2 separate regions of the Homo sapiens genome follow, and region 2 is linked to region 1. The links come from fine-mapping of genetic effects on plasma protein levels. Region 1 holds a variant in brackets. A gene starts in the other region. All regions are shown on their reverse strands. Region 1 overlaps FCN2 (ficolin 2). Region 2 holds the start of SEPTIN3 (septin 3).

The links. PIP is the posterior inclusion probability: the model's chance that the variant is causal. The UK Biobank Pharma Proteomics Project read protein levels with antibody pairs (Olink). The fine-mapping took linkage between variants from a reference panel, not from the people measured, so its PIPs are less certain.
Region 2: it holds the start of SEPTIN3, and the variant in region 1 is fine-mapped to the plasma level of the SEPTIN3 protein (UK Biobank, PIP above 0.99).

What each region holds. Positions count from the first base shown.
Region 1 is chr9:134,885,409-134,901,573 of GRCh38, reverse strand. It overlaps FCN2 (ficolin 2), which reads right to left. Exons shown (of 8, transcript NM_004108.3): 6 at 15,677-15,806; 7 at 15,010-15,144; 8 at 14,051-14,406. The coding sequence ends at 14,159. Among named protein-coding and RNA genes, the nearest start is that of FCN2, 13 kb to the right of the region's middle. RefSeq lists an enhancer at 11,269-11,769. The variant G/A (reference allele first, on the strand shown) is at 8,868.
Region 2 is chr22:41,960,750-41,976,914 of GRCh38, reverse strand. It overlaps SEPTIN3 (septin 3), which reads right to left and starts at 7,472. Exons shown (of 12, transcript NM_001363845.2): 1 at 7,238-7,472; 2 at 3,919-5,441. The coding sequence starts at 5,422. RefSeq lists a silencer at 47-116.

The DNA of each region.
Region 1 (16,165 bases):
AACCTGCATGTTTTGCACATGTACCCTAGAACTTAAAGTATAATAATAATAAAAAAAGAATGTCTTTATTCCAAGTTTATATCTGAAGAATATTTTCACGGAATATAGCATTCTGGGTTTACAGTTATTTTCTTCCCATGCTTTAAAAATGTTATTCCAGCCTGGCCACAGTGTCTCATGCCTGTAATCCCAACACTTTGGGAGGCCAAGGTGGGGGTGGGAGGATTGCTTCAGTCCAGGAGTTTGAGACTAGCCTCGGCAACATAGTGAGAGTCCATCTCTAAAAAAAAAAAAAAAAAAAAAAAAAAGTAATAGCCAGGTGTGGTGGTGAAGTCCTGTAGTCCCAGCTACTTGGGAAGCTGAGATGGGAGGACCACTCGAGCCTGGGAGGTCAAGGCTGCAGCGAGCCCTGGTCACACTACTGCAACATGTAATAGCACCCTTTATTCAGCAGAATAAGGGTGAGAAAGCAGAGTGAAACCCTGTCTCCAAAAAAAAAAAAGAAAAAAAAACCACAAAGTTATTTTAGTGTCACCTGGCCCCAGTGGTTTCTTCTTCTTCTCCTTCTCCTTCTTCTTCTGTAGGAGTTTTGTTCTTGTTGCCCAGGCCAGAGTGTAAGGGTGCAGTCTTGGCTCACTGCAACCTCCGCCTCCCAGGTTCGAGTGATTCTCCTGCCTCAGCCACCCAAGTAGCTGGGATTACAGGCGCCCACCATCATGCCCAGCTATTTTTTTTTTTTTGTATTTTTAGTAGAGACGAGTTTCATCATGTTGGCCAGGCTGGTCTTGAACTCCTGACCTCAGGTGATCCACCTGCCCTGCCTCCCAAATTGCTAGGATTATAAGCATGAACCACTGCATCTGGCCCCCAGTGGTTTCTTGTAAGAAACATGCAGCTGTTTAGATCATTGTTACCTTATTTGTATAGCACATAATGTGTAGCTCTGTTGTTTGGTGTGCACACATTTAGAATCCAACAATTCTACTAAAAAACCTCTAAATTTTTAGTAGGTTGACCTTTTATTATTATATTCTGTCTCTGGTAATTTTCTTTGCCTGAAGTCACTTTTATCTGATATAGTAGAGCCTCTCCTGCTTTCTTTTGATTAATGTTTGCATAACATACATTTTCCCATATGCTTTTACTTTCAATTTGCTCATATTATTATATTTGAAATAAGTTTCTTTTAGATAGCATATGCTTAGTCAGGCTTTTAAATACACTCTGACAATCTCTCTCTCTTTTAATTGGTTCATTTAGGCCATTTACTTTTATGTAATTATTGAAATGTTAGGACTCCTCCTTACTGCTGGGTGGGAGTAGGAGATCCAGCTCCTCAGGAGACCTTCCCTGGTACCTCTGTGCGTAGGAGGGTTGTGTGTCTCCTTTCTGTTCTCCATGAGGGCTTTACTGGCACCACAAGGGGAGGGGTGGACTCACTGCTACTGGGAGATGGTGAAAGTTCTGAATCTCCACTAGGCCTCTCTGATACCAGCCAGTGGGGAAAGAGCTGAGCAACTCATAACTGCTGGGTTGGGGTGGAAGTCTAGTTTCCCCATGTAGACTCCACTGACACTGCAGGAGTAGAGGGGACTTGTTACTGCTTGTGCACAGAGGAGATGAAAGTGCCTTTTCTGATACCAACCCATCCAGCACTAGAGGGTGCTGGGATGCCTCATTACAGCTCAATGAAGGTGGAAATCTAAGCTCTCTACCTAGCCTTTGCTTGTAGGGGAGGAGATGGGTCACCTCCAGCGTTTGACTGGAATAGAGCAATTATTGTCTAAAGTTTTCTGTCTTGCTGGACTGTCTTCTTCCTGAGCCTTTGGATAGAGAGAGCAGGTTTTTACTGGCCTTCTTTTTTTTTTTTTTTTTATCTGTGCCTTTTGGTATTTTCAGGTTATCAGCTTCTTCAGGTCAGGGATATCTGTTACATTTATTGAGTGGAATAGGGTAAAAGTATGTCTACTCCATATTACCAAAACCAGAAGTCTCTATTTTTCCCAATGCGTTTTCTCTCCATTGTTCAAAATGGAAGACTTTTATTGACCTGTCTTCAAGTTCACTGGCTCTTCCGTTATCTCCATTCTTGTATTGATTCTATCTAGGGAAATGCTATTTCTATTGTTACATTTTTCAGTTCTAAAGTTTTCATGTGATTTATTTTGTAGCTTCTAGTTCTTTGATGAGACTGTCTAGCTTTCCATTAACTTCAGGAGTGTTAGCACTTACTCCTTACAGCATGATTATAATAGCTGCCTTAAAGTCTTCAATACTTCTAGCACTTGGTCATATCAGGATTAGTGAATGTCGATTGCCTTTTTCCTTCAGAATTGTCTATGTTTTCCTGGTTCTTTACATCCCTTGTGCAATTTTGGATGTAGCCAGGACATTTTGAATATTATGTTATGAGATTCTTTAAACATCTTCTGGGAAAATGTTGACTTTGTTGTTGTTTCAGCAGGCAGTGCACCTAATTAAGTTTAGATTGCAACTTCTGTTTCGCTTTCCCTGTGTAGGTTATTTACACAAATGTTGTGTTCTCTCTCCAATCTGTCTTTGTTACTTTTCAAATCATCAGGTATTTGTGTTTTGTTCAATGTCTGACGTGCTGCAGTGGGCTCACTCCATTGTGGGAAGCATCATTCAAAAATGCAACTCAACCCCAAAGATTTTCTGCTCTAATTCCCAGTGCTATAAATACAGGCTATCATGCCAGTGATCATGTTATGTTACATTACAAAAGCGATTTTGAGATGCTATTAAGATGGCTAATTAGCTGACATTGAGTTAATTAAAAAAGGGATTATCAGGGTGGGCCTAATCTAATCATGACAGTCCTTTAAATGCAGAGAGTTTTCTCTGGCAGGTAGCAAAAGAGGAGTCAGACAGATTTGCAGCATGAGGGTGATTTGACACACTTTTGCAAGCTTTGAAGATGGAGGTTCATTTAGAAAGAACCTGAGAGTGGCCTCCAATAGCTGACAGCAGCTCCCAGCTGACAGCCAGCAAGAAAATGGGAACCTTACTCCTAAAACCACACGGAACTGGATTCTGACAACAACCTGAATGGCCCTGGAAGCTGCTTCTCCCCCAAATCTCCAGCTGAGCATAAGGCTTGGCTTACACCTTGACTTCAGCTTTGTGAGACTCTAACCAGAGGACCTTGCTTGCTGAGCCCACTCAGACCCCTGATCCATAGAACTGTGAGTTAATAAATGGGTGCCGTTTGTGGTAATTTGCTGTGCATGAGTAGAATACTAACACAGCCACCTTGACTGCTATAGAAATTATGAACTTTGTTTTTTAAGTGTTGATGTAGATCACTTGAAACCTAGCAATACTTTGTCTTCCTCCAACACAGGTTTCATTTGCTTCTCCAGGCATGTTCTGGAAGTTAATAACCAGTGCCATTGCCAGAGATGGTCTGTGCACCCATATGACTTAAAATCAGTTTGCAATTTTGGGGGAGAGCTGGTTTACTTGCAGGTGATCCTTACCTCTGGGATGCACATGTACATAGTTGTCAGGCTAAAGTGCAGGTTCCTTAACCTGAAACTCCATTCTTGGCAGGCTCTAAACATGTACCCTGGTCCCCTTCAGCCTGCTGAGTTGACAAAACTCCCACACAGACTTGAAAGCTTCTCTCTGATTGGTGAATGACCCCAGACAAAGATACTCACAGATACTCCACTCTGAGTTTCTATTTCTGCCGAATCTTATTCTGGTAATTCCTCATTACTCTGATCATCTTTAGTGCTTAAGAAGAGTATCTCTGAAATTTGCCCAGCTTTTTTGATTTCAGAAGGAAGTTTGGCCTTGTTTTCTAACCCATTATTACTGGAAGTAGAAGTCGGCACTTCCAGTTCTATGATCTAATTTTACACTTAGGTTTCCAGGTCACTAGAGCTTGCACATTGAGCATTTTTTTAAATGGCCATTTAATACTCACTGGAGGAAATGGACATCCTCTTATTGTTGAACACTTATAATCTATCCAGTGTTTCCTCTTATCGTTGAATACTGATATCCTAGCCAGTAATTAACACGTTTATGTACACGCTTTTTTCTCTTACGTTGCATTTTTTTTCCAAGAGTAAGTTCTCTGGTAAGCTTATTGATTCAAAGGGTACAAGCTTTTCTTTAAGTTCACGTAGTGTCATAAGTGACACTTATGAAACAGATTCAAGTCATAATACCACATCCCCATAAAACAATCTATCTAAGGCATGTAAATATTCACTGTAATTAATTTGATCCTTATTGCATGTTTTAAAAACATTTCAACTTGCTTTTGATTTGGATCTCTCTCACCTTTATTCTGAGGGATGGGTGGGGGGCCTGGGGACACATGGCCCACAGAAGGCTGGAGATGGAGTGGGAGGCAGGCTGACTTGTCATCTCTGTTTGATGTGCTGCTGTGTGACTTCCTACCACAGCTCATCAGCGGAGAAGAGGGAGGGCTCTAGGCATCACCCACTGAGATTTTGGTTCTAAAAGTCTGGGATGGGGCCCCTGAATCTGTATTTTTCAGAGCCTCCCCAGGTGGCTCCGACGGACAGTTAGGTTGAGGAACCACTAGCGTGCTAGTTTCAGAGAGCCGAGTAGAAGGTTTTAGTGCAAGCGAACAAAACCCGGAGATCTTCTGGCTCATCAGAGCAAACTCATATTAAAGAAGACAGCAATCCTGGAAGGGAAAAGAGAGATAAACGAATTAACGCAAATGGGTTTCAATTAGAATCCAGGCTCGCACAGCCCAGAGAAACAGGAGCTGGGAAGCCAGGTAGGTATCAGCCGAGCCAAGCATTCATCAGAGCCAAGCATGCTGGATACGTGATGGCCGCTCCAGGTTTTGTTTTTGTTTTTGGATGTGCGTTCTGTCCTTGACTCACATGTCTTGGCCATCAGCCCAGTAGAGGCCCTTCCCGACGGTACGGGGTAAACAACCTTGGACTTCCCGCCATACAGGTCACTTGGCCCACTTTGAAGATTAGCTTTTATGGAGAAGCAGAACTGCATTTGACAAGAGGAAGACCTTCCAATGTCAGTCACCACCATCCCAGGCCACACTGATCTGGTGGCTGCTCATGCCAGTAGTGAGCTTCTTGTGCCTGTGGGTCTGCTGGGAGCTACAGAGGCACTGACTTGAGTTCTGGGTGGTAAGATCACCCAGAGCAGCTGCCCCTTAATTTCCAGTTCTCAGATTTGATGATTCATGTTTCAACCCCAATGAAATTGTAGAACACCCATGCCGTCATGGAAGGCACAGGGCTCTGGGAGGGCCCGTTTGCTACCTTGGGACAGATGGACATATCCAGATTGTCCTTGGCTCTGCTGGCTTCCCGACTGGGACTTCTGCCACATCTTGGGGTGGGCGGGTGGGCTTCCAGCCTCCTGTAAAGCTGCAGGAATCAGATAACTGGCTGCCCCCCACCCATATGGCCTCTGGCTGATGAGTCACAGTGGCAATGAAAACCAAACTGAGTAGCTCAAGTGCAGCTAAAGAAATCAGTAGGAGGCCAACTTGGCACAAAGCCCAGAGTAAGTTTTTGAACCAGGAGGAGAATGCAGGTTTCTCCTCTCCTCGCCTGGGCCACCTCTTTGTAAAGATAAGAAACAGCAGCTATTTTAACAGGCAATCTTAATATCTCAGGGCTGATACACAATGCAAGTTTGTTTCTTGCCCAGGTCATAGTCCAGGGCAGGACATGGTGACAAGAATCACTCCTGCAGTGATTTAAAAAACCAGATTTCTTCTGGGCATCTTCTTTCCTGAGATAGAAATTTGGCTCATATTTCATTCAGATTTGATGCACTTCTTTGCCAATTTATCCCCATGCCTCCCTGTATCTCTCATCTTAAGGAAGTCTTTCTTAAAGTTTTCAGGCTTGGGCAGGAAGGATCTTTACTACAATTTTGAGTCACTCTGTTCAAAACAACGTATTCCATTGATCCTTCTTACCCTAGTGCTTTTAAAACCTCATCTCGTACTGTTTGGAGTCTAACAATGTTCAGGCATTTTCCAACTCTGCGAGATTTCCAATTCCTAGTCTCTTTAATCCATTTTTTTTCCTGCTTGCTAATTTCTTTTCTAAACTCTTCTTTCTCTTGTAACACCTAGTCAGACAGCCAATAAAAATAAACACACACTGAAAGTTCTGTTTTTCAAGTCGATCCCCTGGGGCTGGAAGAGACGTTCCAAGGAACTGCCTTCCAAGTTATTGAAGACAACATGTTCATCAAACAAAACTCTGCAGCCCTCCACCCACCATGTGGCTGCTAGGCCAGTGCCTTGGATTTTAGGTGTCTGTTGCCACGCTCTTGCACTTCTGGTACCAATCTCTGCATGAGTCAGTGTAAGCACAAATAGCTGCTATAACAAACAACCCCTCAGGATCACAGTGTCATCATTTCCCCTTGTGCTGCAATGCAGGGCCCATGCAGTGCAATGCAGGTTTACAGAGGGCTTTGGGGTTCCTCACCAGGACATGGGACAGAAGGTTTGGGGGGCCAGTTTAGAAAGGGGTCTGCATAATCTCTGTGAACATCCCATTGACTAAATCTCCATCATATAGTCTCATCTAACTGCAAGAGAGGTTTAGAAAAGCAGCCTTCTTGTACCCTCAGGAGGGGGAAAAACAGGCTTAGTGAACATATAACACTATGTCTGTCTCAATGCCACAAGGCATGCCTTTTATAAACAATAATGAGAAATTCTCCTGGAGTGATGGGAGCACGTACGGTAACGATGCAGCCATCTTCCCCAAGGGTTTGCCATTTGTGTATGGATTGGAATGTGAATTGTCTGTATTTGCACTTAAATCTGGACATCCACCTGATGCAGGGTAGGTGAGCCCCAAATTGGGGCTTAGCCCAGGAGGGTTCTTGGCTTCACCCAGGAAAGAATTTAAGGGTGAGCTGGTGGCATCAAACAGCAACTTCTATTGAAGCGGCCATGTACAGCAGTAGCCAAGTTACCCTCCTTGCAGAGCAGGGCTCCCCATAGGCAGTGTGCCCAGAGCAGCAGCTCAGAGGCAGTTCTGCAGACATACTTATACCCACTTTTAACTAAATGCAAATTAAAGGTGGTTTATACAGAAATTTCTAGGAAAAGAGTGGTGACTTCTGGGTCATCAAGTCATTGCCATGGAAAGGGGTGGTAACTTCTGGGTGTTGCCGTGGGCAATGGTAAACTGACATGGCACATGGGTGGGTGTGTCTTATTGAAAGCTGCTTTCACCTTGGCCCTGTTTCAGCTAGTCCTCATCTGATCCAGTGTCCAATCCCTGCCTCCAGAGTCACGTCCCGCCTCCTAACTCTCTCTCAGGTCAGACAGGCAGTGAGAGAGTAACTGGGGAGTTCTGGCTCCTATAAGGATTCAGGAGAACTTCAGGCTGAGCCTGGAAGAAAGAAACAGGACAGGACTCACTGGAGCCACTGCTTTGAGTCTTCCATTTAGGCCGTTTGTCTGATGCTATTGGAAAAGGCCTCGTTCTCCTGGTGAGAGGGCAGGCTCCTTCAGAGCAGGAATTCACTGCCTTGTACTCCAGAGAGGGCTGTGCACCCAGCAGATGTTCCATGGGGGTAGTGGGAGAAGGGCTTGGCTTAGTCTTTCTTCACTAAGTGATTAGTGTCATTCTAGTGAAGAAAAGAGAAGGTGAAGGTCAGTGGGGCAGGTGTCCTGAACTCTGTGTCTTCCTGACTTTGAGGATAGGGCATGCAGTGTTTTGGGGATTTTTTTTTTTTTTTTTTTTGAGATGGAGTCTTGCTCTGTCACCCAGGCTGGAGTGCAGTGGTGCGATCTCGGCTCACTGCAAGCTCCACCTCCCAGGTTCACGCCATTCTTCTGCCTCAGCCTCCCAAGTAGCTGGGACTACAGGCACCCGCCACCACACCCAGCTAATTTTTGTGTGTATTTTTTTAGTAGAGACGGGGTTTCACCGTGTTAGCCAGGATGGTCTCGATCTCCTGACCTTGTGATCTACCCTCCTCGGCCTCCCAAAGTGCTGGGATTACAGGCATGAGCCACTGTGCCCAGTGGTTTTGGGGATTTTTTACCTGTTGCATCTGACTGGGGCCACTGAGACTCCTCTTAGGACAACCGACCATCCTGGTGGCTAGGGCTTTTCCAGGAGATGGATGCTCAGTGCTAAAACTGGGCAGGCCCAGGCTCACTGGCACAAGTTGGCCACCCCACTCTTTCTGACTACAGGCTACTGGGAGAGGAAAGAAGCCTAGGACGCAGAGGAATAAAGGGACAAGAACAGACACCCAGAGAGGCTGGGGACAAAGAGATGCGAGGGGCCCTGAGTGCCCAGGAGCCTGGAACAGTGATGTCCTCCTAGCGTGGGGTCACCTCCCAAAATGCACAGTTCATGCTCTGCAGCAGGCCATGTTTTCTGCCTGTTACTCCCTGCTTGCCTTCGGCCACTTCCCAGAATGCTCTTTCCAGCTCTCCACTCCCATTCCCCAGCAGTGTTTCCATCTTGGTTGCTGTAAAGTGCAAAACTCAGAACCCAGGGCACAGGTGGGGAGTGACCTATGCAGAGGCGAGTGTGGCATCTTCCTTGTTCTAGATGTCAGGCCTTTGTGAATGCAGCCTAAAACCACATCCTACCTTTGGTGAGCAACATTACGCTCTGCCTAGAGCCAGCTGAGCCTGGAATCCACAAGACGGCCCTTTCCCAGTTCTTTTTTTTATAAATTGCACTTAAGGCATGGAGTCATTGGAAGAACTCAGAAACCCATGGTGAGGGGTAGGGAAGGGGCAGGGGACACGGGGGTTTGGGTCAATGGAGGCAAGAACACCTGGTTTCAGGGTTTGGGTGCCTATCAGTCACAGCTCCCAACCATCAGCTTATTGGAGG[G/A]AGACAGTGTCCCTCAGGCCAGGAGAGAGAGAAGAGAGCCAGTTCTCCCTCAAGCAGATTCTGAAGGCAATAAAGGCAGACAGCCTGGCCTCTGCTCTGACCCCAGGGAGCCCGCCCTGGCTAGTGTGGGCAGCAGGTGAGGGAGGCCTTTGCTGGAGCCTGGCCCACAGCAGGTGGCTCCATCCTCCTCTCCCAGGTCTGGATACACAACAGAGTCAATCCCTGCCCGCCACCCCTATGCCAAGGCACAGCTCCCAACACCCTCAACAGAACAGCCTGGACTCTCAGCCCAAGGAGACAGGCAGGTGACAGGAGGTGTAGGGGCAGGCCAGGCAGGGCTAGGCAGGGCTGGAGCCCACAACAAAGACCTATAGCCAAGGGCTCCTGCGCCCAGGGAAAGGCCCGAACAGAAGGGGAGGCCTCACGGGCAAGGGCTGTCAGCTGGGCAGGGGGTGCCCTAGGAGGAGGACTGGCAGCTGGGCCGGGTGTGTGATGCTGTGCTACGCTTCCTGGCCCTTCAGCACATTGCAAACCCAGTGTGGGAGCACATTCTTCTTACTCCCCGGGGCCTTCAAATCCACCCTGCCATCCCATGTTACACGAGAAGGAAGATTCAGAGAGGTCAGGTCACAGATCAAGGCCACACAGCCCAGGTCTGTGAGGGCAAAATGCCACTGCACTTCACAGCTGAAATGAAGAGACTTTGCTTTTGAAGGAGGCAAGTTCTACTCTGAGACCCTGCCTGGGAGCACAAGCCACACATAGTGCCACGTGGCCAATGTCTCCATAAACACGTACAGGCAGCTGAACAGGACCAGGGACCAAAGGGCCCCAGGCAGGGCCACTGACACCAAGGCCAGGAGGCCTCACAGAGCCCCATGCTCGGTCAGTTCCTCCTGAAGACTGGACAGGAAGAGGGGGTGGGGATCAGGCTGCAGCAAATCCATCGCCCAAGGGCTGAGAGCCCAAGGGCAGGATGGAAGGGTCCTAGGGTTCCACAGAGCACCCGCTACTGCTCGGAAGGCAGAGCACAGGGAAGACAAAACCAGAAAGCACATCAGATTCTGGAGAGGTGAAGGCGAGTGAGAATGAGGTCTGGAAAAGGTGTAGCAGGGGCAGGGTGGAGAATGAGGATCCCAGGGAAGGGTCAAGTTGTGCTCCCATTCCCAGAGAGCATCACACCTTCATGGGGAGAGTCCTCAGAGGTGGAGGACTGCCCTGGGCCTAGATTTGTTAAATGGCCCTCTCTCCTGCAGAGGAGCTTTCTGAGTACACTGCTTCACCTTCCTGATACATGGGGTTCCAGCCCTGCAGGGCGGGCTCCTTTCTCATCCTAAGGACGGGGACTTCCTGATGTTGCAACCACCCAGTGGGTTCAGCTTGCCTGCTGCCCAGACAGAGCCAATTTATCAAGACAGGAGAATTGCAATCGAGAAAGAGTAATTTACGCAGAGCCGCCGTGCAGGATACTGGACTAGAGTTTCATTATTACCAAATCAGTCTACCCGAGCATTCAGGGATCAGAGTGTTTAAGGACAACTTGGTGAGTTGGGGGGAAGCGAATGAGCCAGGAGTGCTGATTGGTCAGGGTTGGGGGGAAGCCAAAGAGCTGGACATACTGATTGGTCAGAGATGAAATCACAGGGAGTCAGAATTGTCTTCTTGCACTGAGTCAGTTCCTAGGTGGGGGCCACAAGATCAGACGAGCCAGTTTATTGAGCTGGGTGGTGCCAGCTGATCCATCAAGTGCAAGGTCTGCAAAATATCCCAAGTACTGACTTCAGGAGCAGTTGAGAGAGGGTCAGAATCGTGTAGCCTTCAGCTGCATGACTCCTAAACCATAATTTCTAATCTTGTGGCTAATTTGTCCTACAAAAGGAGTCTAGTCCTCAGGCAAGAAGGAGGTTTTGGGAAAGGGCTATTATCATCTTTGTTTTGAACTATAAACTAAGTTCCTCCCAAAGTTAGTTCAGCCTATGCCTAGGAATGAACAAGCACAGCTTGGAGGTTAGAAGCAAGATGGAGTTGGTTAAGTCAGATCTCTTTCATTGTCTCAGTCATAATTTTACAGTGGCGGTTTCAATGTCAGTTACTCCAGCCAAAGCAAGGCTTCACAGCTTTGGGGAAAATAAGCATCCTTATCCAGACCCCAAGAGAGGGTTCTTGGACCTCTCACAAGAAAGCATTTGGGGCGAGTTCATAAAGTAAAAGCCACTTTATTAAAGAAGTAAAGAAACAAAAGAATGACTACTCCATAGGCAGAGAAGCTCTGAGGACTGCTAACTGGCTATTTTTATACTTATTTCTTGATTACATACTAAACAAGGGGTGGATCTTTCATGAGTTTTCCAAGAAAGGGGCAGGGAACTGAGGGTCCCTCCCTTTTTTAGACCATACATAGTAAGTTCCGGAAGTTGCCATGGTGTTTGCAAACTGTCGTGGGAGTGTCCTTCAACATGCTAACGCATTATAATTAGCATATAGTGAGCAGTGAGGACGACCAGAAGTCACTTTTGTCACTGTCTTGGTTTTGGTGGGATTTGGCCGTCTTCTTTACCGCATCCTGACCTGTATTTTGTGATACCCGTCCTGCCAACCTCCTATGACTAAGAATGCCTAACCTCCTGGGACTGCAGCACAGCAGGCCTCAGCCTCATTTCACCCAGCCCCTATTCAAGATGGAGTCTGGCTTGAATGCCTCTGTCACCCCCAGCCTGGCCACAGAAACCACAGTTACAGTTAAGAATCTAGGGTCTAGTGGGCACAGGCCCCCTGCCAGCTGCTGCCCCTTCTTCCAGCCCTCCCGACAGCAGAGGCCTGAGACCTCTGAAGAGCAGGAAGGGAGGCAGCGGTCCCCAGCAGAGGGACAGGGACAGCCCAGCCCTGGGGACACTCTTGGCCTTGGCCTAGGCTCCAACCTGGCTCAGCCCCCTGCTCTGGAGGGGAGCCAGACACCCTGAGGCAGCACTGGTGGCCTGAAGGAGCCAAGTCTTTCAGGGGATGGGAGAAGCAGGCACCTGTGGCTCCCAGGTGCCCACCCAGTACCAGCTGGTCCTACAGAGCCCTTCCGATGCCTGCCTCAGTTACACCTCCCAGAGGCCCCGCAGGTGCACACACACACACACGTATGCACATGCGATGCACGTGTCATGCAAATACATTTATGTTATGTTAGGTTAATTACACAAGCCTCCATGACCTCCCTGTGCTGTGTTAATTACGCCAGCCTCCTGACATACTGACTGCATTTTTATAAGTACATTTTCTTATCCCAACAAACCCCCCCAAAGCTTGACAGTATTTATAAAGTATAGCAAAGCTACATTAAATATTTAGAAAAAGTTACTTTTTAGCTCATCTCTCAATTAAGAAAATTTAAAAAAACAATATTTTTAAAAATCTCTGGCTTGTCAGGCTAAAAACATTTCTATATTAAATAGCTTTATTTTTGCCTTCCAGAATAATGCCATCATGCATTCCAGGGAGAACCCCATTTCTAGAACTCAAGGGTCAAGATTTGGGAGAAATTCCCAGTTCCTCCCTTTACAGCTGTGTGAGGTGCGTGTTTTCTTCATTTAAATCTCCTGTTGGAGATTGAAATGCCCAGAATGGGGGGTAAGCGGCGCTGAGAGGAGGTCTGACGCCAGGTCTCATCCTGACAGTGGCCCGGGCTGTGTGGCTGAGCTCTTTGCTGCCCTAGAAGACTGCCTGGCAGTGAATGGCTGAAGCGTGAGGCCACAGTGCATGTAAAGTCAGCACCTGTCAGTGATTTGTCATCCTGTCTAAAAGCTAGGGACCCAGGTCTACGAGAAAAGAGATGTCTGGGTGTAATTTCCAGGGGCAGCACCCCGTCATTTAGTTATAAACCCTCAGGTTTGACAGCTTGCTAGTTTCTGTCCTGAGGACGGGTCAGCCCCCTGGGTGGGTGGTGTGGCCCCCTCCTGCGGGCCCAGGAAGGAAGGAAGTGCCACGCCCAGGGCCATCCCTGCTTCCCGCTGTCCTGGCTCATCCCAGGCCTCGGACCCAGAGTGAGGAGGGAAGGTGAAGATGGCTGTGTCCTGATCTTCATGGCGCACCCCCTCCAGGAACTCAGAGGAAACAGTGCACTCTCCCCCGAGAAGTCCCAGACACACAGCCCTCTCCATGACTTGTGTAGGGCTTAGACCAGCTAAGACCCAGGACGGACCCTCGTAGGGGAAGGAGGGGGCCCGCGTGAAAAAGCTCAGGGAGGGATCATGGCCTCCTTGGACCCTTCTGGATCCTCTCTGAGTAGAGGGTATAGGACAAGGGCAGGGCTGTTATGAGAGTGATCGGGGACCCAAACAGCCGTACAAGGGTCAGCACTGGCCGATGCTGGGGTGCGGAGCCTCTAAAAGCCTGGTCAGGCTGAGCTGGCTGGGGACCGGGGACAGGGGACCGGTCCTCAGGAGGACCCGGACGTGGTGAGAGGAGAGGGCCAGGTGCCATCCTCAGCAGACACAAGCTCCTGCACTAATACACTTTTCTCTCTTGCAGGCAGCTTGCCTGAGAGAAGCGGGTGGAAGGGGCTTTGGCTTTCTGATTCAATCTGCACTGGGCTAGGCTGCAGGGCAGCTTTGGGATGGACACTCATGGCCAAGAGGAGTGTTCTTCCCTCCTCAGGAGTGCTCGGGTCCCTCACACCTGCCTCATGTAACCACTCTCTCCGTTTTGATGAGGGAGTCACAGGCACACTGCCACTCTTGCTTCGGCTTGTGAGGAAGTAGCGAGCAGATCCCACGAATACCCAGGACAGCAGGCGGCAGGAAGCCTGGGTGACGGGGGAGAGTGAGCAGAGCTGCGGCTACGAGGCTGGGGGCCTTGGACAGGCAACGGCATCTCTGAGTGCAAGAGAAACTTCCTCTCCAATGTGCCTTCTGACTTCCCTGCCATCCAGCTCACAGAGAAGCCCAGATGGTCGAGCCCCAGGAAGGCGTTTAGCCTGCCCAGGGACCTGAGCAGGGCTGCACTCTGAGCCCATCGCAGCTTCAAAGTCTTGTATTTGTCCTTAAGGAAGGTTCCTGCTGGCATGGTCAGGAACACATTCTTACTCATTGTCAAGGAAAGACAGAGGTTTGAGGTGAGTTAATGTCACAAATCTGAAAGGGTTGATTGCGGAAACAGAGCTGGATTTGAACCTCTTCCGCACAGCAAGACAAACCCAATTTAGAATCACGACATGTGTTTCTTTTACAAACCGTAGGGCCAAGCTCCCAACCCTACCCCCCAACCAACTATGTGTGGAGGCGTCCTGACCCTGAGGCCGGCCTGGGCTAGGCAGGTCGCACCTTCATCTCTGACACCTTGTAGCTATAATTGTATCCTTTCCCCGACTTCCAGTTGATGCCATTTGCAAAGCTGCCATGAGTCCCCCTGAGGTAGCGACCATTCAGGTTTGACACATGGCAGTTTTTGTACCACCAAGCTCCCTGAAACATCACAGCACAATTTCCGGTGTTAAGATCATTGTCCTGGTCTTTGGTGGAGAAGGACTGGTTGTTGTGGAACGTCAGGGAATCTCCTGTGCAGGAGGAAATGTGAGCATCGTTACAGGCAGTAACATCATTACAGACAGTATAAGTCTTTATACCTGAGGCCTGGCCTGGTGTGTCCTCCATGTATGGTTAGGCAGGTTGTGCACTGCACAATCCAAGAAGTGCAATCCATGACTCCAGTGAATACTGCCCTGCTGTTGGCAGTGGTCTTGGCAAATTGTCTTTAGGTCTAGCCCTGCCACCTAATGTGTACTATGTTTATTTCACAGAAGAACAGGAGGCAGGGGTCAGGATCATCATTCTCTACTCTGGATTCCATCATGGCAGACCCCTTCCAGCCATGCCCCGCAGAGATATCAGCTGCTGTCACCGTGCATAGGTCCCTGCTCTGCAGAGACTTCCTTCCTACCAGATGCCCTTGCTGGGATTTCTGCAGTCATACACTGATGTGTCCCATGACCCCCATGCTACACAGAGCACAGATGTTAGTGTCTGCATGTAGAGATGGACGAATTGGCTCAGAGAGGTGAGGCCTCTTCCACAAGGCTACCAGGACACTGAGCACGCTCTCTCCACTTCCCAAACCCCCCTCAGAAGCCCAGGCCACACAGCCCCAAGCAGACACTCACCCGCACTGCCCTCCACGAAGGCCCCCAGGACCAGATTGTACTTCTCCGCCTCGTCGGCCACCTTGAATGATCTGTACTTAGCAAACTGGTAGTTGTCCTCAAAGTCCACCAGGTCTACACGGAGCTCGCTGGTTCCTGTTAGAGAAAGGTTTCAGGGTCTCAGCGGAAGGGCTCTCTACCTTTAGACATGGGAGCTGGGGATCTGGGGCAGGGCCTGGAAGGAGGTCTGGACTCCATGGAGGCAGAGGGCGGAGAGCACCGCAGCATCCCCGGGGCCTGTGTAGCTCTGACCCGGCAGGGTGTGCTGAGCAGCAGGGCAAGACTCTTGACTCCCAAATCCTAGCGGATTAGAGGCAGAGTTGGGGTTGGGCCCAAACTCCACTATGGGGCCACTGTGTCCCTCCTTCCCCTCTCAGGACCTGAGATGCCAGTGGGGCCAAGACCTGAAGAGGCCTTCATCCCAGAGCTCTGACCCTCTCCCGTCCCGATGCTGCCAGAGCCTGCAGCAGGGACGAAGCCCTCGGAGGTCCCAGTGCCACCCTGAGTGTGCTCAGGGCCCAATCCCCTGTGGGCCAAGAGGCTCTTGTGTTCCAGGCAGCCCAGGCCCAAGAGGCAGGGGCACCCCCATTCAGGGCCCCCGACCCCCAAGCCCCAGCAGCGGCCCTACCCTGGGCGGTCAGGGCGTGGATGTTGTCATTCCCCAGCCAGAACTCCCCCAGCCGACTGCCGAAGCCCTGCTTGTACGTGGCCCAGTCCCGGTAGAAGTCCACAGAGCCATCCACCCTCCGCTGGAAAACCTGTGGAGAAGCCAGGGGACAGGAGCCGGGGGGGCCAGGCCGACGTCCCACAGCACGGGGGACCCGCCCTCCAGAGGAGCAGCATTTGTAGTTGGCAGAGCATCACAGGCGGGGTCACCAGCACGCCCACCTGTTCTCCTCACAGACTCCACAGGATGAAGGAGGAAATGGGGGCTCAGAGAGGGGAGGCAACAAGCCCCAAGCCACACAGCAGGAGAGCACCCAACCTCTCCCAGCCTCCCCCAAAGGCCTGGACTTTTACCCACCGGTCATCTCCCCCATCATCTCTGACTGTCCCCGACCAGGAGAATAGAGAATTCCAGAGTGTGTTCTCCCACCAGGTGTGCAGCCTGGCCTCC
Region 2 (16,165 bases), not on the chromosome of region 1:
CGCCGCGCCGCCCCTGCGCCCCGCGCCGCCGCGCCCTCCCCGGGACCTCGCCTCGGCTCGCTCGGCGCCGCGCCGCCCCTGTCCGCGCGCACCGTTGCCGCCGCCGCCAGCCGCCGCCGCTGCCACCCGCACCACGTGACCGCGCGCCCGTCGGCCCCGCCGAGGGCCCCTCCCCTTCCCGCGGCGCCCGCGCCCGCAAGCGGGAACTGGTCCCGGGTCCACGCTGCGGGCGGTCCAGGAGCCGCCCCCGCGGGCTCCAGGTGCCAGGCCCGGAAAGGTGCCTGCATCCCAGTCCCGTCTCTCCCCGCTGGACCTGCTCCCCGCCCCTTACCCACTGGGCTGCGGCGGGGACGGGCGGAGGGGCGCAGGGGACCAGTGGCAGCTGCGGGCGGCCGTGAGCGCGCGTGAGTCACGCGGGGGCTGGGGTGTTGCGCGGGTGCCTGTAGAGCCGAGTCAGGGGCCCGGGTTCCAGGCCCTGCTCCAGAATGATGAACCAATAACCTTGAGCCAGACAGGAACTTCTCTGAGCCTCAGTTTGCCCATTAGAAAAAAATTTCACGCATTCAGTGGATACTAATGGACAGCATATTGCCTCACAGGGGTGAGGACAACCATCCCTCCCCTCGAAGGTTCTGGGTCTAGTGGAGGAGACAGGAAGATGGAATGTCCTAATGCAGGGGCCGGGGTGCACACAGGGAACTGAGGGTGCAGGCAGGTGGGCACCCTGGGGAGAGGGGGCTTGGAAGACTTCTTGGAGGAGATGAGGGCCAGATGGAAAGGCAAATGGGAGTGGAAGGGAAGAATGGAAAGGGAGAGGTATTCTGCAAAGAGAGGACAGCAGAGGTGAGGGTCTCCAGAGGTGAGAGCTGCGTGGTGCTGGTGGACAGCCCAGAGTCCTTGGTGTCGCTGAAGCAGAGAAAATTCCAGACAGGTGTGTAGAGCTAAATAAGAGGCTGGAGAAGTCCGCACGCAGCCTTGGAAGCTGGATTTTAATGGAAGGTAATGGTGAGTCACTGACGAATATTAAGCCGAAAGTGCTGCCATTCAATGTGGGAGTCGTTGCAGCAGTTGTGTGTGGACAGGGAACAAGCTGGTGGGTGGGAGGTGGCCTCACAGGGGCAGAAGGATGGAGAGGAGGGGACAGCCAGCCAGATAGTTGAGTACTGAGGAGGTAAACCAACAAGGTGGGAAGTAGACTGGATGAGATGGCAAGAGAGAGATGAGGAAGAAGAGGATACCCGGGTTTCTAGGCACCTAATAAAAGGTAGGCAATGCCTACAGCTGAGAGAGTGAGATCAGGGAGGCAGGAGTCAGTTCAAGAAGAAAAGGGCTACCTCTGGACATGCCCGGGAGACATCCGGGTAGATAAGCCTAGCAGGCTGCTGGCTGCCCACATCTGCACTTCAGGAGACAGGGCTGGGCTGCAGATGGAGGGAGAGCTGAGATCTCGTAGGGAGAAGTGAAGACCAGAATTTAGGTGAGGTGCCCAGACTGAGTGTGTGGGGTGGAGGGAAAGGGGTCTGACAATCTAACGACTCAATTAAGGCATTAGACTGGATGCCTTCTAGGCACCTTTCCAGACCCAAAAACTCTGAGCCCTTGAAATGTTGGGAATGAGGCTGCCCAAAGTAGAGATTTTAACAATCTGGATTCCAATCAGCTTACTGCCACCAGCCAGCTTTGGTGTGACTTTAGGCATGTCACAGGCTTTCTAAGACCAAATGAATGTCCAGCCCTTGTGTTGCCCTATTTTAGAGTTCTGTGTAGGACTTCCATATATACAAGGCTCCAACTTACCTTTCAGGATTAAAGGGCTGGGGGTGGGGGACCAAGAAAGAGACATTCAGGTAAGACAACTTTTAAGCAACAGATACCTTCCTAAAAGGCTGAGCGTAAATGGATTTGGAAAGTCTCGAGTGAGGTCATTATCTCACATCCAGAGGAGGCTGCAGAGACTACCTATTAGACAAATCACAACTTCCTAAAGCGCTAGTCAGTATTTTCACGTAGGAGGTAGGAGGCTTGCTTTTTTTTTTTTTTTTTTTTTTTTTTTTCTTTTTGAGACAGAGTCTCGCTCTGTCGCTCAGGCTGGAGTGCAGTGACGCAATCTCAGCTCACTGCAACCTCCGCCTCCCGGGTTCAAGCAATTCTCTGTCTCAGCCTACACACCTGGCTAATTTTTTGTATTTTTTAGTAGAGACGGGGTTTCATCATGTTGGCCAGGCTAGTTTTTTTTCTTTTTTTTTTTTTTTGAGACGGAGTCTCACTCTGTCACCCAGGCTGGATTGCAGTGGCGCAATCTCGGCTCACTGCAAGCTCTGCCTCCTGGGTTCACGCCATTCTCCTGCCTCAGCCTCCCAAGTAGCTGGGACTACAGGCACCCACCACCACACCCGGCTAATGTTTGTATTTTTAGTAGAGACGGGGTTTCACCTTGTTAGCCAGGATGGTCTTGATCTCCTGACCTCGTGATCCACCTGTCTCGGCCTCCCAAAGTTCTGGGATTATAGGTGTGAGCCACCACGCCTGGCCTGGCCAGGCTAGTCTTGAACAACTCACCTCGTGATCCACCCGCCTTAGCCTCCCAGAGTGCTGGGATTACAGGTGTGAGCCACTGCTTTTAAAGGTGGACACACCTATTGATCACCTGATTATTCCAGGTCTTCAGGAAACAAACAATCCCGGGAGATGCTGAAAGGAGGACTCACCATAATTGCTCCTCCACAAGTTACCCCTGTTAACCTTTCTTTTTCTTTTCTTTTTTTTTTTTTTTGAGACAGGGTCTTGCTCTGTCGCACAATCATGGTTCACTGCAGCCTCGACCTCCTGGGCTCAAGCAATTCTCCCACCTCAGCCTCCCCAGTAGCTGGGACCACAGATGCATGCCACCATGCCCTGCTAATTTTTTATTTTATTTTATCTTATTTTATTTTTTGAGACAGAGTCTTACTCTGTCACCAGGCTGGAGTGCAGTGGCACGATCTTGGCTCACTGCAGCCTCTGCCTCCCAGGTTCAAGTGCTTCTCGTGCCTCAGCCTCCCAAGTAGCTGGGACTACAGGCATGTGCCACCACACCTGGCTAACTTTTGTATTTTTAGTAGAGACGGGGTATCACCATGTTGGCCAGGCTAGTCTTGAACTCCTGACCGCAAGTGATCCACCCGCCTTGGCCTCCCAAAATGTTGGGATTACAGGTGTGCGCCACTGTGCCCAACCCTTATTTTTTATTTTTTTATTTTTTTGAGACGGAGTCTCGCTCTGTCGCCCAGGCTGGAGTGCAGTGGCATGATCTCGGCTCATTGCAAGCTCCACCTCCCGGGTTCACGCCATTCTCCTGCCTCAGCCTCCCAAGTAGCTGGAACTACAGGCACCCGCCACCACGTCCGGCTAATTTTTTTTTTTTTTTTTTTTGTACTTTTAGTAGAGACGGGGTTTCACCGTGTTAGCCAGGATGGTCTCGATCTCCTGACCTTGTGATCTGCCCGCCTTGGGCAGATCCCAAAGTGCTGGGATTACAGGCGTGAGCCACCGTGCCCAGCCCCTTATTTTTTATTTTTTGTAGAGACAGTCTCACCATTTTTCTCAGGCTGGTCTTGAACTCCTGCACTCAAGCAATCCTCCCATCTCAGCCTCCCAGAGTGCTGGGATTACAGGTATGAGCCACCACACCTGGCCAAAACCTTCTTTCTGATAGTTTCCCTCAGCCTGACCTCAGACTGGCAGGTTAGAACCCAGCTCAGGGTACAGTCCCTATGTCTGGCCCTACAACCCCCATTTCCTTTTCTCCCAACCCATTCAACCCTGACCTTAGAGTCCTTCCTCCGTTTCTCAACCCATGCAAGCATGATCCATCTCCAAGCTCACACACCTCCCCCTCCCGGCAGCCTAGTCCATCCCCAACCAAGTTTCTGCATTTACCTTTGTATTCTGTGGCCAGGTCCAGTGAGGCAGGCTCTGTGGCTCTGTCCATGGCAGCATTAGTGTTGTCCAGGGCTAGGTCTGTGGATCTGCTTGGCATTAGCAGGCATGTAGCAACGTCTGATATGGTTAGGTTATTAACACTGCCCAGTGTGGTCTTCCCAGTGGCTGGGTCTGGGGTTACTGGCACAACTGAACCCACAGCTGTGCCCATCCTGCTTGTGTCCAAAGCAAGAGAATTCTTAGCCGTGCCCAGCTTGGCTCTGTTCACTCTGGCCAAAGCCATGGCTGTTTCCAACCTACTGGTGCCCACTGTAGCTGTGATTGTGTCCGGCTTGACTGGGTCTGATGTTGCTGAATCCATGGCTATACCCTCTGTGGTCATATCTGGTTTGGCTGTGCTTCTTGTAGCCATGGCTTTGCCCAGCTTGTCTGGTTCTGAGGCTATCAAATCCATGACCATCCCTGGCTTGGTTGTCCCAACTGTAGTCAGATTCATGGCTGTGCCCGGCTTGATTGTGCCTGCTGTAGCCAAGTTCACGGTTTTGCCTGACTTGACTGTCCCTACCGAAGACAAGTCTCTGGCTGTGCCCAGCTTGATATCCAGGGCAGGGAACTCTGTGCCTGTGTCCAGTTGGGATGTGTTTGGTGTGGCTAAATTGATAGCCAAGCTAGGTCTGTTGGTGGCCATTGTGGCTAAATGTCTGGCTGCGTCTGTCCTTGTGTCCATAGCAGTCAAATTCACAGTCGTGTTGGCCCTTTGGAGACGCCCCCGGGGTCTGGGGATCCCCCTGGCCCGGGGCTTGCCTTTTCCTGGAGAAGCTCTGGTAGGCATGTGGTCAGTCACTGAGACAAGGTGCCCCTGGCCCAACGAGCCTGGCTCTGCAAGGACTGGTGCACTCTGGGCTAACCGGGATTGGAAAGGTAAGGCTAGGTAGGAACTCACCAGGGGCTTCTCCGTGGCAAGCATCCTGTTGGATTTGGTCAGACCTGGGTTCCCTGGGCCCTCAGAGTGGACCCTGCCCCCTGGCACTAGGGTCACAGGTGGCGAGCCTGGCGAGGACACCCTCCCTCCTTCATGGGGAGCAGCCTTCTTTCCTGGGGTAGGCAACTCTTCCCAGTGAGAAAGTGGGCGATCCAGGGACCGTGCCTGGCTGTTCTGATGGAGAGTCAAGGAGATGGAGCTGAGCTTCCTGGGTACAAGGCTGCTGGTGGGCAGGGGGCTCAAGGAAGCCCCCAGAGCGATGCCCGTCTCCTGTGGGGGCACACTCCGGGTCCTGGCTCCAAGGCCCAGCCGGCTGGAGGTCTGTGGGATATGGCTTTGGGGGAAGGTATCCAGATGGATGGTCTTCCTGAGGACGGGGGTGAGGGGGGACCCTCCTCCAGGGAGTCTCGAGGGGCGGATAGGGCGCCCCAGCACATGGCTATGGGAGAAGGAGGTTCCCGGGCCTGGAGCTCCATGCGACTGCATCTCTGGAGGAGCAGGAGCAAAGTTGTGGTCCATCCAGGTCGTTTGTCTTTCCCTGAGGCAATCAACAGAGAGAAGAGGCCAGGCAGGGGTGAGGAGCTCAGGCCTGGAGGTCTCAGCTCTCCCCTTCCTGACCAGCAGCTGAGCATGCCGGGTCTGAAGGGGCCTGGTTCTGGGGACTGTCCAGTCCTTAGTGGAGGATGCATGTAACTTCCTCCTGTCCTCCTACGGCTCCTACCTGCTGCAGACTGATCTGTACCTCATACCTACCCCACCCCGGCCAGCCACCACACAGTGGGGTGGGCACGTCCAGTGAGCAGTCTGCCTCCAGCATGGGGCATCTCAGGCTGGGCTTACGTCTCCCTTTGCCTGGGCCTGAGTGTGGCCCCTGTCTCTGTGGACAGCTCTATGGAGGTCACATACATGTTCAGGGACTCCAGAGGAGGGCAGTGCTTACTGGAGACGTCTCTCCCTTTCTCTTCCAGAAAGAACCAAAGGGCTGTGGGTTCCCACCCACAGCAGCCAACATAGGAGCTCAGGTGTCCAGGTGGCAGGATGAGAGAGGACCAATTTGGCTTAGAGCCCCAGAACCAAGAAAGAGCCCTGAGCTGGCCTAGTGCTGGAGTCAGAAACAGAGCCAGCCCTGGAGAAGGTGAGGATGGGAAATGGAGAGGCAGTGAGTGTTCACAGAAGGAGCTTATCTGGTGAACAAGCCATGGTCCCCGCCCTTGAAGAGGCTGCCATGCCCAGGGATGCCAGGCAAGGAAGTAGGCAGGGCTCCACCAAGCTAAGCATTAGGGGTAGAAAGGCGGGAGGCTAGACCTGAGCTGGGGCTGTTCCTACAGAAGGCCCAAAGGTGAGAAAGTGTGGCATCTTTCTGAAAATCCAACATGGGGCTCCTAGGCTGTATGTAGCAGGGAGGGGAGAGCCAAGGCTGCAGGTGAGCTGGGGTCCAGGCCAGGCTACAGCAAAGTTTAGGCCAGGGAATGTGACCCATTCCGATCTGTAGGTGGGAACGGCCACTCGGGCAGTGTGACAGAGGGATCAGATGGGAACAGAATTGAAGCCAGGATCCCATGAGGACATAGTTGAAACTCTCTGCTCCGTGGGCTGTGCAAGGGGCAGAGCTAGGGCTGGGGCTGGAGGAGGCTGCATTGCACAGGGGTAGAAGTGGCGGGACTGCCCAGGGTAGGGAGTGGGCACAAAGAGGTGTCGAGGATGAAGCTCAGGACTCTGGCTGTGGTCTTAGTAGATGGGCCACTCCCTGCTACTCTGGACTCCAAGTAACTCACCCTCTAGAAAAAAGTTGGTTTGGTTGCTTTTAACACAGCAGGCTGGGACCTGCAGCTGGGGGACAAGGCCAGGGCTGGTGGGAGGAGTCAGTTCCAGAGGGCTCATGGGGAGGGGAGTGATCATGTAGCCAGGTCCTTGAGGTCTGCAGCAGGGACGGGGAAGGCAGGGCACCGGACAGGGAAGGCATCACCCCTCACAATGGTGCCCCCAGCCCCTCATCCCTCTCCAGCCATATATTTGTATCCAAGACTGTCCTGGCCTCCAACCCTTTCCCACCTGGCCTATCACTGCAGCCCTGAACTTCTGCCCCCTCCTGCACAGCCACATCCACTTGGGCACACACGTTTACCCTGCACTTAGCCACAAACAGCTCCCCTCAGTGTGCACACCCACACACAGAGCAGGCCAGAGGACAGGGTGTCCGAGGGCATCACCCGACTCCCCATCCCCTCACTGCACTCCCATCTTCCATGGATTGCTTGGTCCTTCCCCACCCCACCCCCACCACCCTCCCACCCCCACAAACCCCCACACCCTTCCACCCCCCTACACACCTACCTTGATCAGAGGACAAGAAGGATCCAGTGTGTCTGGGAAGATAAGGCACACGCAGGCCCCTCACCTCCCCTGCACTCAGAGTCTGGCCATGGTGGCCAGCTTAGGGGCCTTGTCCCTCTGGTCCCCTCCTCAGCTCCTGCTCAGCCTCCAGGCCACAGTCCCCAGGCACAGGGCCCAGCCCTCTGCTCACTGTCCCACCAGCTACATCCCCGGAGACCGTGCTGGGCTGGGCTCTGGTGCAGGGAGGGGCTGGCTTCCTAGGAGTGGGCGGCTGTGAATGGCTGCTCTGAGCCTCTGGAATCCTGAAGAGCCATGGGAGGCTGGTAACGGCCAGGCTGGCACTCACGGCCACCTGCAGGGAGGTTCCCTGCAGCCTGCCCTCCCCAAATCTGCTCTGTCTCCCACAGACTTTGATGCCTGGGGAGTCTGCAGTAAAAACAGGGGTACTCCAAATATGGCTGCACTCTGGTAGTCCCAGCGCGAGTCTCCCTCTGGCTCTGCCTCTGTGCCCTTCATGCCCTGTTCAGCTCTGCAACCCTCAGACCATCTTGCCCACTCACCTGGTCTTTCCTCAAGGGGGCTGGAGTTCCTGGAGGCTAGAGCTCCTTCCACAACTATTCCCTGAGCCCCAGCTTGCTCCAGCTGGACCCTGTACCCAGACCCTAAGGGTGTGAAGAGGACCCCGCCCTAGGCCTGCCCCTGAGGGGACCACAAAGCCACCCAGCCTGGCTCTGGCAATGCCGACTCTCAGCAGCCCCTGGCCCTGGGGCTGGGATGGGAGCCCTCTTCTGTGTTCCCACAGCCCTCGGCTGCCTCTGTCATAGCAGTGGTGATAATAACAATGGTGCTGATAACAGCTACTATTTCCTGAGCACTTGCTCTGTGCCCGGCACCATGCCAGGGCTGGGCGGAGCTCACAGTCTGCTAGGAAGATAGGTATGTAAACAGATCCTATAGTACTGTCCTGTACGGTGATGGCAGATGTCCTCCGAGCACTCACCCTGAGTCAGGAACTAGGCTAAGCATTCTCCTGGCATCTCCTTTAATCTCCGCCTCATCACCTGCTTTTTACCGAGGAGGACATTGCAGCCCACACAACACTGTGTTGTCTGGTCTGCTCTCCTGTGTGTCTCTCTCTTTAGCGAGTGAGCTTCTGGAGCTGCGCTGGGCAATACAACTTTCAGTGATAATGGAAATGTTCTATGTCTGTGCTGTCCAGTACAGTAGCCACTAGCCACAGATGGCTACCGATCACTTAAAATGTGTCTACAGTGACCAAGGAACTGGATTTTTTAGTTTATTTTAATCTGTGGCTACCATATTAGCTCAGCTCTGTTTCGTTTGTTGTTGCTGTTGTTGTTATTAGTTTTTTTGAACAGGGTTTCACTCTGTCGCCCAGGCTGGAAGACAGTGGCGCCATCATGGCTCACTGCAGCCTCTTGGGCACAAGTGATCCTCCCACTTCTGCCTCCAGAGTAGCTGGGACCACAGGCATGCACCACCACGCCCAGCTAAGTTTTTATTTTTTGTAGAGACGGGGGTCTCCCTATGTAGCTCAGGCTGGTCTCGAACTTCTGAGCTCAAGCAATACTCCTACCTCCACCTCCCAAAGTGCTGGGATTACGGTCGTGAGCCACCATGCCTGGGTGGAAAGCTCAGTTATGAAGGTCCTGGATCTTCTTCTCTGGGCCCCAGGGTCTGGCAAAAATTGGCTTCAGTAAGTTTCTTTTTCTTGAGAGTCTCACTCTGTCACCCAGGCTGGACTGCAGTGGCGGGATCTCAGCTCACTGCAACTCCGCCTCCCGGGTTCAAGCCTCAGGATTCTCCTGCCTCAGCCTCCCAAGTAGCTGGGATTACAGGTGTGTGCCACCACGCCTGGCTAATTTTTGTATTTTTAGTAGAGACGGGGTTTCACCATGTTGGCCAGGCTGGTCTCAAACTTCTGACCTCAAGTAATGCATCTGCCTCAGCCTCCCAAAGTGCTGAGATTACATGCATGAGCCACCGTGCCCAACCGGTAAATTTCTTTAGAAAGAAATAATGAATGAATGAATGATTGAATGGTGATTGTGTGGGCCTAGCACCCATCCCTCTTCTTTTTTTTTTTTTTTTTTTGAGACAGAGTCTCGCTCTGTCACCCAGGCTGGAGTGCAGTGACGCCATCTCGACTCACTGCAAGCTCCGCCTCTCGGGTTCACACCATCACACCATTCTCCTGCCTCAGCCTCCCGAGTAGCTGGGACTACAAGCACCCGCCACCACGCCCACCTAAATTTTTTGTATTTTTAGTAGAGATGGGGTTTCGCAGTGTTAGCCAGGATGGTCTTGATCTCCTGTCCTTGTGATCCGCCTGCCTCGGCCTCCCAAAGTGCTGGGATTACAGGCATGAGCCACCGTGCCCAGCCCCTATCCCTCTTCTTATCCTTTCTCTCCCCTTACAGCTTTAGGTTCTCAAACTTGGCTGGGCTCTGGTTACCAGGGCAACGTGCTGGGATCCCAGTGGATGGGGGAGGGCAGCTATCTGGCGCTTCCATGCTTTGAGGCCCTGAGAACTGGCCTGACTTAAGGAAGAACAGAGGGTGCTGGGAAGGAGAGGCACAGCTCTGCCTGGACGGATTGGAGCAAGGGAGACTTTCCTGGGCCCAGCCCCATTGGATTACATGATCTCTGTGAGATAAGCAGCCTTGGGCTGAAATCAGTGGCCCTGGGTTCTCTCCCCACTTTGGCCAACGATTCACCAGGCAACGTCTATCAGATTAACTTGTGCTTCTGGGACTCAGTTGCCTTTTAAAATAGGGATCAGATGCCCTCATGTGGTCGGTCTCTTCTACTTCAAGATCTACAATTCCTCCATCTCGCTCCCTGCCAGGCTGTTAGGGCCTTGAGAGCAAGGCCTGAGTCATGTTCATCTCCGCATCCTCCTGCCCATCTGCCCTGCTTAGAGGCTTAGAGGACACTTCCTGCCCAGTAATTACAGGCCAAGTTTCAGCTGCCCTCTAGGGGCCCAAAGTGACAATGGCCCTCTCCTATCTATACATATGGTGCTTTCCCATCAAAGGAAAGATCCATAGGCCTGGAAGTGGCCTCAGAGAACAGAGGCCTCCACTCAACCACAAAACCATTGTGGTGGCCTCCCAGACAAGTGTCATAGGCTCTGGAGTCCTTCAAGCCTGGGTTTGTTACAACTATGTGATTTTCAAACAAGTCAATCCCCCTGAGCTCCCCTCTCATCTGTAAAATGGAGATTATATCAGTCAGAATGAGTTAAATTATGCTGCAGTAACAACCATTCCCAAATCCCAGTGGCTGATAACAACATGCTGATTTTTTTTTTTTTTTTTTTTTTTGAGACAGGGTCTCACTCTGTTGCCCAAGCTGGAGCGCAGTGGCACTATCACAGCTCACTGTAGCCTCGACCTACCCAGGCTCAGGTGATCCTCCCACCTCAGCCTCCTGAGTAGCTGGGACTACAGGCATGTGCCACCACGCCCAGCTAATATTTCTTCTTTTTTTTTTTCTTGAGATGGAGTTTTGCTCTTATTGCCCAGGATGGAGTGCAATGGCATGATCTCAGCTCACTGCAAACTCTGCCTCCCAGTTTCAAGCAATTCTCCTGCCTTAGCGTCCTAAGTAGCTGGGATTACAGGTGTGTGCCACCACACCCAACTAATTTTGTATTTTTAGTAGAGGCAGGGTTTCACCATGTTGATTAGGCTGGTCTCAAACTTCTGACCTCAAGTGATCCACCCTTCTCAGCCTCCCAAAGTGCTGGGATTACAGGCGTGAGCTGCGTCCAGCCTAATTTTTCTAATTTTTGTAGAGACAGGGTTTTGCCATGTTGCCCAGGCTGGTCTAAAACCCCTGGCCTCAAGCGATCCTCCTACTTCAGCCTCCCAAAGTACTGGGATTATAGGCCTGAGCCACCACACCTGGCCGCAATGATACATTGATTTCTCATCCATGTCTCATGTCCACAGTAATTTGGGTCCACTAAGGCTCTGCTCTGTGCCCTCTTCCCTCTGGGACCCAGGCTGCCTTCTAGTGCATTGCTAGTCATGTGGCAGAGGGAAGGAGGGAGTGACAAATTGTGGACTAGCCATTAGTCCATCAGCCATTCGGCCTGTACTCACTTCTAATTACAACTAATTGGCCAGAACTAGTCTTATGGCCCCACCCATCACAAGGAGGCAGGGAAGTTTAATCCTACCGTGTGCTGATAGCTGGAGAGTCAGAAACCTTTGGTGAACAGCAGTGAGGACCCACTTGCATGGTTGCCATAAGAATGCAATGGGGGGCCGGGCGCGGTGGCTCAAGCCTATAATCCCAGCACTTTGGGAGGCCTAGGCGGACGGATCACGAGGTCAGGAGTTCAAGACAAGCCTGGCCAACATGGTGAAACCCTGTCTCTACTAAAAATACAAAAAACTTAGCTGGGTGTGGTGGCGCGTGCCTGTAATCCCAGCTACTTTGGGAGGCTGAGGCAGGAGAATCGTTCAAACCCGGGAGGCAAAGGTTGCAGTGAGCCGAGATCACACCATTGCACTCCAGCTGGGCAACAAGAGCGAAACTCTGTCTCACAAAAAAAAAAAAAAAAAAAAAGCAATGGGGGCCAGGCGCGGTGGCTCACACCTGTAATCCCAGGACTTTGGGAGGCTGAGGCAGGCAGATCACCTGAGGTCAGGAGTTCAAGACCAGCCTAGCCAACATGGCAAAACCCCATCTCAACTAAAAATACAAAAATTAGCTGGGCCTGGTGGCGGGCGCCTATGATCGCAGCTACTTGGGAGGCTGAGGCAGGAGAATCACTTGAACCCAAGGAGCAGAGGTTGCAATGAGCCGAGATCACACCACTTCACTCCAGTCCAGGCGAAAGAGCAAAACTCTGCCTCAAAACAAACAAACAAACAAATGCAATGGGCAATTGCTAGTCCATGAGCTCAGTCCATGTTAGCCATTCAAATTGTTGCCTTGGCACTCTGATTTCCTTTTTTATGTATCTTCCATGATTTCCTCTGACTTTCTCATCAGTTCCAGCTGTTTACAGCTGCAGAAATAGAGGGAAATGGACCTGCCAAGGTTCACACAGTGAATCAGTAGCTGGACACCTAGGTCTCCAGGCTCCAAATACTGAGCCCGTCATACCTTATGAGGGAGGGAGAAAAAAGCTCTGCCTGCCAGGGGTTCTCTGTAAGGGTGGTTGACTGAGACTGTGATAGTCTTTTGAGGGAGCCTGCAGTCTTTGCCCTTCTCCCAAAGCTGGTCTCTCAGCCTTCCCGAGCCCTTCCTTCTCAGCCAGTGTGAAGAACTGAGGGGGCGGAACAATGAGGAGCCTGTGCCACCCTCCAGGGCTGGAATCCGAACATTGCAGCCATTCTTACTCAGGGACCCTGTACATTCCCGCCTCCTGTCCTCCTGTTCTGGGCCGAACCCTGACACACCTGCCCTTCCCCATCCTGACAGCTCTCAGATGTTGGGAAAGCTCCCAGGACTCTGCAAAACCTCTCAAAGCATTTTAAAAATCTGCACACAGCTTGATGCCCAGGAAACCTCCAAGCCTTTCTGAAATCTTGGTTTCTAAGCAAACAGGCAACTCCTGGCAGGACTTCCAAAGAAACTAGCCCCATTCTTGCAACAAGCAAGCTTTTAAGGAGGCCCTGACCAGTGCCAGTAAGGCTGCAAGCCAAGATGAGAAGATGTGGTCACTGCTCCCCACTGACGTGAACAAAATCGCAACACAAGATTAGCATTGTAATGGGGAAAGCTGCTGGGGGGGCCAGGGAAGGCTTCCTCGAGTAGGTGGTAATAGGAAGGTCATCGGGTTCTCAGTCTGGGTCTAAGCCTTCCTTGAAAAGCCACTTTCTGGTTGCTTAATCCGCCTGCCCTCCTGCCACTGGCTCACTTGCATTCTGTCTTTTGGCCACACCACTCACAGTCCTCAAAAAGGACTAGGTTCTCTCCAGAGTCCATGGCTTAACACTTGCAGCCTTCTTTCCCTTTGCAGGGAAAACTCTTATTCCACCTCCAGAACCCAGATTAATAGTCATGTCCTCCGGGAAGCCTTCCTTGACAACCCCCTTCCCCAAAAACTAGGCACTTCTTCGGTTCCGTTTCCAGTTCTGCACACATACTTCTCTTGCTGCAGGTACAGTTTTATAATTTGTCTGTTGGCCAGGCACAATGTAATCCCACTACTTTGGGAGGCCAAGGTGGGCGGATCACTTGAGGTCAGGAGTTCGAGACCAGCCTGACCAACATGACAAAACCCAGTCTCTACTAAAAATACAAAAATTACCCTGGCATGGTGACGCGCACCTGTAGTCCCAGACACGGGAGGCTGAGGCAGGAGGATCGCTTGAACCTGGGAGGCGGAGGTTGCAGTAAGCTGAGATCACACCACTGCACTCCAGCCTGGGCAACAGAGTAACACTCCCTCTCAAAAAATACTACTACTAATAATAATAGTTTGTCTGTTTATACTTCTGTAACCCCAGTTTGTGAGCTCTTCTGATGCAGGGACATCCTCTTTTCCATTACATTCTTGGTGCCAGGCCTAGGTATGTGACATGCCTCTGTAGAGTTCAAGAGGATAGCTGTGGGCCGGGCGCAGTGGCTCATGCCTGTAATCCCAGCACGTTGGGAGGCCGAGGCGGGCAGATCACGAGGTCAAGGGTTCAAGACCAGCCTGGCCAACATGGTGAAACCCCCATCTCCACTAAAAATACAAAATTAGCTGGGCATGGTGGCGCATGCCCATAATCCCAGCTATTTGGGAGGCTGAGGCAGGAGAATCGCTTGAACCCAGGAGGCAGAGGTTGCAGTGAGCCAAGACTGTGCCACTGCACTCCAGCCTGGTGACAGAGCAAGACTCCATCTCAAAAAAAAAAAAAAAAGAGGATAGCTATGTGATACATGGCGTTTATACAGTGCTTTCTTCCCCACTATCTCTGACATTTGCCATCACCCGGTGAGGGAGGTAGGGCAGGAGTGATATGAAAATGAACAGGGCTTGGATGGGCACAGTGGCTCATGCCTGTAATCCCAGCACTTTAGGAAGCCGAGGTGGGCAGATCACGAGGTCAAGAGATCGAGACCATCCTGGCCAACATGGTGAAACCCTCTCTCTACTAAAAATGCAAAAATTAGCTGGGTGTGGTGGTGCGTAGTCCCAGCTACTCGGGAGGCTGAGGCAGGAAAATTGCTCCAACCTGGGAGGCGGAGGTTGCAGTGAGCCAAGATCGCACCACTGCACTCCAGCCTGGCGACAGAGCGAGACTCTGTCTCAAAAAAAAAAAAAAAAAAAAAAGGAAAAGAAAAAAGAAAAAAAAAAAAAAGAAATGAACAGGGCTATACGGAGAACCTGACAGGAGCTGAGCACAATGCCAGACACTGGCAGGGGACATTTTTTTGAGCTTTAATCATCTGTGATTCTCAGTGCCTGACACAAAAATGTTTGGTTGTGTTTCTGAGAGCTCAGGAAACTTGCCCAAGGATGTGCAATTTAAATCAATGGTTTTATAGGATTAACTATTATCAGGTCTTGACCTCGAATCGCTCCTAGTCCAGTCCTCTGGCATCCCCTCGCAGATGGAAAAAACATCCTGCCTCCACGGGCAATGGCCTGTTTCTGTAGGCTCTGCCATCTGGGTCAAACCTTCCCTCCCCTCCACTGTGTTGCTTTTACTATACCATCTGAGGCATTTCTTTTTCATATTTAGAACCAGAAAAAGGTCAGGTGCCATGGCTCACTCCTGGAATCCCAGCAGTTTGGGAAGCCAAGGCGGGCGGACCACTTGAGGTCACGAATTCAAGACCAGCCTGACTAACATGGCGAAACACCATCTCTACTAAAAATACAAAATTAGCTGAGCATGGTGGCGCATGCCTGTAATCCCAGCTACTGGCAGGAGAATCACTTGAACCTGGGAGGCGGAGGTTGCAGTGAGCCAAGCCTGGGCAACAAGAGCGAAACTCTGTCTCAAAAAAAAAAAAAAAAACAAAAAACAGAAAAAAAATTGTCTTTCATGAAGAGTGAATCTCTCCCTTCTATCACATAACAATAAAAAGATGGGCCAGGTGTGGTGGCTCACGCCTGTAATCCCAACACTTTGGGAGGTGGGAGGATTGCTTGAGCCCAGGAGTTCAAGACCAGCCTGGGCAACATAGCAAGACCCCATTTCTAAAAAAGAAAAAAAAAAAAAAGCCGGGCGCAGTGGCTCACGCCTGTAATCCCAGCACTTTGGGAGCCTGAGGCTGGTGGATTGCCTGAGGTCAGGCGTTCGAGACCAGCCCGACCAACATAGAGAAACCCTGTCTCTACTAAAAATACAAAATTAGCTGGGCGTGGTGGTGCATGCCTGTAATCCCAGCTACTTGGGAGGCTGAGGCAGGAGAATTGCTTGAACCCGGGAGGCGGAGGTTGCAGTGAGCACCATTGCATTCCAGCCTGGGCAACAAGAGCAAAAACTCTGTCTCAAAAATAAATAAATAAATAAATAAATAAATAAATAAATAAAATAAAGCCCTCTTTGTGTTTCTCCTTTCCCTCTGGCTGCCAGGAGGCTTAGAGACAAGTAATAATAACAGCATTACAGTAGCAGTCAGAATTAAAATATTTCCTCCTTACACCCATGTTATGTGGCTCCTTCAACTGAAACCTTCTTGAATCTTTTAGGGGAAGAACAGGTGTAAATAAACATTTATGCAATGAGCCCAGGGGAGAAGTCTGGGAAAGGATCCAGGTTGAAGAGCAGAGGGCTTGGATGAATCTCTCAGCCTTCCTTTGATGGCAGCCTAGGATGAGAAATCTTGCTACAGCCGTTGAATGGAGGCAGCCCTCCTGAGAGGAGGACTGGCCACCTTAAGGCCTCCGGCAGGGTCACAGTCAGCACCCTCCCTGCCCAGGCTGTGAAGCTCGTGACCATGAACACA